Homo sapiens: one gene and its partner. The protein of the gene in region 1 interacts with the protein of each later gene in a pairwise test. Each region holds a gene or a part of one and is shown in the gene's direction. Other genes may lie near its edges.

Region 1 (3,432 bases):
TCATACTGCCTTGGCGTGCCTGGCATAGCATTCACCTGTCTTTATCAAAATCCTTCCCATCCTTCAAGGCCCTTCTCATGTTACCTCTTACAGCTGTTTCCCTGATTTCCTCGTTATAATTAGTCTGGCCCTCCATCCTCAGAACCCTGATAGCACTCTAACTGCCCTAATGACAGTGGCCACCTTCGCTCTATATCATTGTGTAGGTACATGCTTGCCCTGTTCACCAAAAGCTCTCAGAGATCAGTAGGAATCCTGCTCATTTTGGGGTGCCTAGCATAAGAAATTGGTTGGGGTCTAGTCTCAGCTCTAGCAACTAACTGGGTTGGCCTCCATGTGTCCCCCAACTCTGTGAGCCTCATGCCTCTAATTTATTTAATAAAATGTTAGATGAGAGCCGGGTGCGGTGGCTCACACCTATAATCCCAGCAACTCAGTAGGCTGAGGTAGGAGGATCGCTTGAGGCCAGGAACTCAAGTGTGCAGTGAGCTCTGATCACACCACTGCACTCCAGCCTGGGCAACAGAGCAAGACCCCATCTCTTTTTTTTTTTTTTGAGACAGTCTCTCACTCTGTTGCCAGGCTGGAGTGCAGTGGCACGATCTCGGCTCACTGCAACCTCCAACTCCCTGGTTCAAGTGATTATCCTGCCTCAGCCTCCCAAGTAGCTGGGATTACAGGCACGTGCCACCACACCCAGCTAATTTTTGCATTTTTAGTAGAGATGGGGTTTCACCATGTTGGCCAGGATGGTCTCGATCTCCTGACCTTGTGATCTGCCTGCCTTGGCCTCCCAAAGTGCTGGGATTACAGGTGTGAGCCACCACTCCCGGCCAACCCCATCTCTTAAAAAAGTTAGACTAGACCGTCTGTAAGGTGCTTTCCAGCTGTGAAATTCTATGGCTCTGTGTATGGAAGGAAAAGGGAGGCTGGGCTCTGACCTGTTCATTTAGCCCCGGTCTCTCATGTGGCCCTCTGCCGATGCAGCTCCCAGATACGACCAGGCCTGGGGAAGGAGATGGTCTGATGAGGCCAGCACTGGGGACTAAGGACGTGGAGTGAGCAGGCCAGCCTGTGGGCCAGGCCCAGGTTGAACCATGTTGCTTGCCTCAGTCTCTTCACAGAGCCCTCAGAGCCCCTCCCTGAGGAGTCCAAACCTGTGGAGATGCCCTTCCACCACTGCCACAGGGACCCCCTTCCGCCGCCGGGCCTTACCCCTGAGAGGCTGCATGCACGGAGGCAGCTATATGCTGCCTGTGCCGTTTGCTTTGTCTTCATGGCTGGGGAGGTGGTCGGTAAGTTGGGGAGCAGCCCTTAAACCCCATTCTCCAAATACCTGCCCAAGCCACTCTCCACCCAGAGTCCCAGGAATGTTCCTGGGTGCAGATGCAGAGATGGGGATGGCTGGGATAGGGGAGCTGGGTGCCCAGGACTCAGGAAGTAGGAGGGATAAGGGACAGCAACAAAGGGAATTCCAGCCGAGGTCCGGGGCCAGTAGGTCAGGGCTGACTTCTTTTAAAAACCCTATTTTCTTGTTATTAAAATAAATCATTGTAGAAAATAAAATACAGATGAATGAAAAAAATAACATAACAGTAGTTAATTATACCTGTAGTCCCATCACCTGAGAAAACCCCAAATCACATTTTTGGTGTATATCCCCCAATTTATTTTCCATGCCTATACACACTACATGATATTTTCTAAATGGAAGCAGACTCCATCATTTCACCCTGGCAGGCGGGTATCTGGCACACAGCCTGGCCATCATGACCGATGCAGCCCACTTGCTGGCGGATGTGGGCAGCATGATGGGCAGCCTCTTCTCCCTCTGGCTCTCCACCCGTCCAGCCACCCGCACCATGACCTTTGGCTGGCACCGTTCAGGTAAGGCCCCTGCATGGCCCAGTGACTCTCCAATCTTGCCAGAGGGCACCCGTCAGGGTCCCAAGCAGGTCTCTGACAGCTTGTCTCCCCCCCCACCCGCAGAGACTCTGGGGGCTTTGGCCTCTGTGGTCTCCCTCTGGATGGTCACTGGCATCCTCCTGTACCTGGCCTTCGTCCGCCTGCTGCACAGCGACTACCACATCGAGGGGGGTGCCATGCTGCTGACCGCCAGCATCGCAGTCTGTGCCAACCTGTTGTACGTCCCAGTATGGAGCAGGCACCTTGTGGGGCCCAGGGCGAGGGGTCTTCCTCCAGGATGGGAGAGCTGGCTCTCTCCTCCCCACCAGACACACAGACACGCACACACAGCTCTCCATGGGCTGCCCTGCGTGTGCCTGAGAAGGGTCTGGGATAGAGACCTAAAATTCAGTCAGCAGATCTCTGTCAAGGGCCTGCCATGGGCCAGCCACTCTGATGAGGGCTTTCATCAACATGATTGCATTTAAACCTCACAGCCACCCCATGAGGTAGGTAGCATTACCCCTAGTTTACCATTAATGCAGTCAATCCCAACAGGTGACTTGCCCAAGTCACATATCTATTTAAGTAACAGGGCCAGCTTCCGAATCCACATGTGTGGCACCAAGTCTGGTATTCTTTCCCCCAGGCTGCATTGTTTATCTCTCTTGCAAAATGCTGTTTTCTTCCAGGGGCTGGGAAAGGGCTACTGGGGAGGTGAGACATGGAGATGGGGGTATAGGAGGCCAGGAGCAGGGCCCTAGGCTGAGGTGCTCTGCTTACCCCTCAGAATGGCCTTTGTGCTGCACCAGGCTGGGCCCCCCCACAGCCACGGGTCTAGGGGAGCAGAGTATGCACCGCTGGAGGAGGGGCCTGAAGAGCCCCTGCCCCTGGGGAACACCAGCGTCCGGGCGGCATTTGTGCACGTGCTGGGGGACCTCCTGCAGAGCTTTGGGGTACTGGCTGCCTCCATCCTCATCTACTTCAAGGTACCATCATTGGAGACCTGCCCCAGCCTTCCTCCCCACAACCACATCCCAGCCCACTCCTTCCCAGGTCCCAAAGCTTCCTTCCTCCTCCCTCCAGCTCCTCCCTCCCACCTCCCAGGACTCTCCCAGACATGAGTCATGTTCCCTGTCCCCTCTTCAGGGTTTTGAGGGGCCTCTCAGGTCATGTTTGTTCAAGATACCCCTAGATCTTCCTCTGAAAGGTCCCTGGTTGTTGGGCTTAGGGGTCTCTTTCTCTGCAGCCTCAATACAAGGCAGCCGACCCCATCAGCACCTTCCTCTTCTCCATCTGTGCCCTTGGATCCACCGCTCCCACCCTCCGAGACGTTCTTCGAATCCTCATGGAAGGTGAGTCGGGCACCACAGCTCCCCATCCCTGTGGCCCTCTCTGACTTTACTCTCGCAGTGGGCCATCACTTTTTTCTTTGAAGATAGTACGGGAAGAAGGCTTGGCTCATGGGGTCTGCTGCTGGAACAAGGATTTGGGCATAGGGTGAATTGTAGGGGTCAAAAGGAGAGT
Region 2 (3,500 bases), on another chromosome or scaffold:
TGAGGTGACCTACAGGAACATGGGAGGGGAAGGCAGATGTGGATGGCAGGTTGTACAAGTGACTTTGTTGCCCACAACTGAAGTGACTTTAAATTTGGTCCCTTAGGTCACTGTCTACCCTGCCTGGGGTCCCCGCCCTCAGGGTAATTCTTTAAGTCAGAAAGCTCTGTATGATGTCAGCGCTTCGGAAGGTGAACTGCTTTGACCTGAGTGTCGAGGCAATCTGAACTTGCCCATGGTAACAGAGGCACAGGATTCTCCAACTCCCTTCTTTGGTCAAAGAATTTTTGGGCTGGGCTGGGCTGGACTGGGTGGGAAATTCTCAGTGAGTTATTTTATCTTTGGTAGGTGGCCTGAACACCTGAGGGACTGGACATCCCATGTTCAGCAATGTCAATGGCATCAGGAGGGCGCCCCAAGGGCCCCATCGCTTCCCTTCATGCATCCATTGTTCTGTTCATTCATTCATCCATACATCCACCTGCCTCTGAGCTTTCACCTCTGACTCCCTAACTCCATCAGACCTCTACGCACCATAAGACTCTGCCAGAACTGAGAAGCCAACATTTCTACATAGACTCAACCTCACCCTCTCCTAGTTTTCCAACAAGACACTCCAAAGCCAACTGGATTTCTCCCCTGTGCTCCAAATGACTTTGTACAAGTGCTGGAGTTAGCACCTCCCTCTGCCCTTAACTGGCTGGAACTGGTTCATTCTCCATTACTGCAAGAGAATGGAAGTCTTAATAGAAGGAAGCAGGAGTGATTAGTTCGGGTTAAAGCAAAAGTGTGTCATGAACTTGGATTCCCTGAAGTCAGTTTTGTCAGGTTCATGGCCCACTTTGCTACAGCATCAGAGTGAAGCACGCCTGTCTAGGTTCTCCAGTGACAGAAAGATCCTGAAGCATGGACTAACATGCTCTCTGGAGCTTAGTACTCCAGAGCTAGATCCTGATGGGTCTCTAAGGTTCCCTCCAAGAAGACAAGGACAGGAGACTTGGGAAGGACCAATGGTAATTTAAGTGGCTCTTAAAAAGTCATGCAACATGTTTCTGGACACGTTCCTGATCCTATTGCGATAATGTATGTGTGCCCTCCCTGTGGGCACACCACCTGGGCATTAGGACTGAAATTCCTGAGTTCTTCCTCTCAAAATTTCTGTGCACCAGTATTATTCCTCATTTTACATACAGGAGGCAACTAAGACTCATACAGGGCTCAACTGAATAAGAGGCTTAAGAGGATAAACTGGAGCAGAAATAAGCCTTAGGTGCTGCCCAGTTTACACTTCCTGGGATGGATGTTTTTGTTTGTTTTGTTTTTTGTTTTTTTTGTTTGAGATGGAGTCTCACTCTGTCACCTAGGCTAGAGTGCAGTGGTGTGATCTCGGCTCACTGCAACCTCTGCCTCTTGGGTTCAAGCAATTCTCATGCCTCGGCCTCTCCAGTAGCTGGGATTACAGGTGTGCACCACCACGCCTGGCTAAATTTTGTATTTTTAGTACAGACAGGGTTTGACTATGTTGGCCAGGCTAGTCTTGAACTCCTGACCTCAAATGACCCACCCACCTCAGCCTCCCAAAGTGCTGAGATTACAGGCGTGAGGCACTGCGCCCGGTGGATAACTTTGTTTCTGAAAAGACTGACATTGAACTTGTCTATGGCAATGCTTCTTTCACAAGCACGGACTGGGCTGAGGTCAACTCTGATAGATTCAGATGACTAGAAATTGGCCAAAAAAGCAGGGAGAAGAACATGAGGTAGACTTAAAGAACTTCCTTTATGTAAAGATCTGTGACTCTGAAATATCCTCCAAAAGGAGAGTGCATCTGAGACTGATATTTAAACTAAGAAAAATGTTTAGTCTGAGATGGATCATAAGTAAATGAGCAGTGTGAGAGGGGAGGGATGGGTAGGTGCTTTCCAAATACTTCGCCTATGAATGCATAATTTTCAGATTTTTTTCCCCTAGATTTTGAGGGAGCAGAGAAACTGGAAAAAACTTTAGTCAATATCTCGTGTTTCATTTTAATTAAGTGACAGGTCCAAGTGTGACATCCTTCAGCACCCAGGGACAAGAGAGGGGAAAGATGCTTTATGGAATGTAAGAAGATGAAGGTGACTGGGATTCAGCGAGAGAGAGGTCCCTCAGACCTGGGACCTCCCTTTATAGGGAAAGACCATATTCCATAGGTTTAGGGCTTTACCTTAAAAGCTCATTTTTTTCATTCTTCCATCCCTAGGAAAGTACTTAAAACCAGACTTTTAAATTTTTATTTATTTATTATTATTTTTTTGAGACAGATTCTCACTCTGTCTCCCAGGCTAGAGTGCAGTGGTGCAATCTCAGCTCACTGCAGCCTCAACTGCCCCAGGTTTAAGCAATCCTCCCACCTCAGCCCCCAGGTAACTGGGACTACAGGCATGCACCACCATGCCTGGCTAATTTTTGTATTTTATGTAGAGACAGGGGTCTTGCCATGTCGCCCAGGCTGATCTTGAACTCCTGGGCTCAAGCAATCTGCCAGCCTCAGCCTCTCAAAGTGCTGGGATTACAGGCCTGAGCAACTGTGCCTGGCCCAAAACCAGACCGTTAACACATTAAAGAGTCTGATTTTGTTGAAGAAAATATTTGCAATAAATTCAAGACTCTTCTTATTGGTAATTTTCCACACAATCCCTCTGAAATAAGGGAGAGGATATAGACCTTTTTAACTTTATAGTTAGAAAAATTGGCCTCAGTGTGAAATTTTTCCAGTCCCATAGCTCATGGATGCCACCAGCTTGCGGTAGTAGCAAGATGCTTACTACCACACCGTTTTCCTCGGTGGCCCAATAGCTCGTGTATCTAAGTTGAACCCGGCAGTATGCATGATTGCCTTTTTCTCTTCTTTTTAAAAAAACCCAACTCAGATGCTGCTTGCGTGGCTTTTAATGAAGCTGAATGGTATCTATCACTTATTTATCCTTGACAGGTTATCTTCCCCACTCTTCCTTTTTCTAACTTCTCCATTCTTCTCATTCTTGACACTTTCATTAGAACTATATGGTTTACGAAGTATTTTCACTTAACTATTTTATTTCTTCTCTATAACTGGTCCTGTGAGGTCACATTACAAAAGAAGAAACTGAGGGTCTCTGAGGTTAAGTAGCTTTACTAAATTATAAGGAAACCTAGCTGGTAGGTAGACAGCAAGAATCCAGGTCTTCTGACTCCTCTTTCAGTTCTCTTTCCACTTAGACCATAGCTGCTTCCTTTTCTTATTTTTTAGCTTCCATCTAACCATTGCCTATCTTGCCTGTCCTAATGTTCTCCATCTTCTCTCACCCCTAATCCCACTCACTGCTTCTCTACCACTTTGCTTTTTGGTGGATGCTAGCAATGTGCTTTGAGAGTCAGTCCTATTTTGGTTCTCTTTCTAGTTGGTTTGTACATCATTATTTCTCCTGAATTGCAATTAAACTCCTTCCTGGGAGATTTGATAATGACTGTAAATCAAT

The links. Proteins that work in one complex are often made in the same cells at the same time.
Region 2: the proteins of SLC30A3 (region 1) and SCN3B interact in binary tests that used the Homo sapiens proteins (3 or more experiments, as listed by UniProt).

The regions. Positions count from the first base shown.
Region 1 is NC_000002.12:27,256,616-27,260,047, reverse strand, and holds part of SLC30A3 (probable proton-coupled zinc antiporter SLC30A3), read left to right. Parts: intron 1-1,113; coding exon 1,114-1,295; intron 1,296-1,717; coding exon of another isoform or gene 1,718-1,740; coding exon 1,741-1,887; intron 1,888-1,989; coding exon 1,990-2,143; intron 2,144-2,695; coding exon 2,696-2,894; intron 2,895-3,154; coding exon 3,155-3,260; intron 3,261-3,432. UniProt on the Homo sapiens protein: Probable proton-coupled zinc ion antiporter mediating the import of zinc from cytoplasm into synaptic vesicles and participating to cellular zinc ion homeostasis in the brain.
Region 2 is NC_000011.10:123,630,625-123,634,124, reverse strand, and holds part of SCN3B (sodium channel regulatory subunit beta-3 precursor), read left to right. Parts: 3' UTR 1-4; intron 5-348; 3' UTR 349-3,500. UniProt on the Homo sapiens protein: Regulatory subunit of multiple voltage-gated sodium (Nav) channels directly mediating the depolarization of excitable membranes.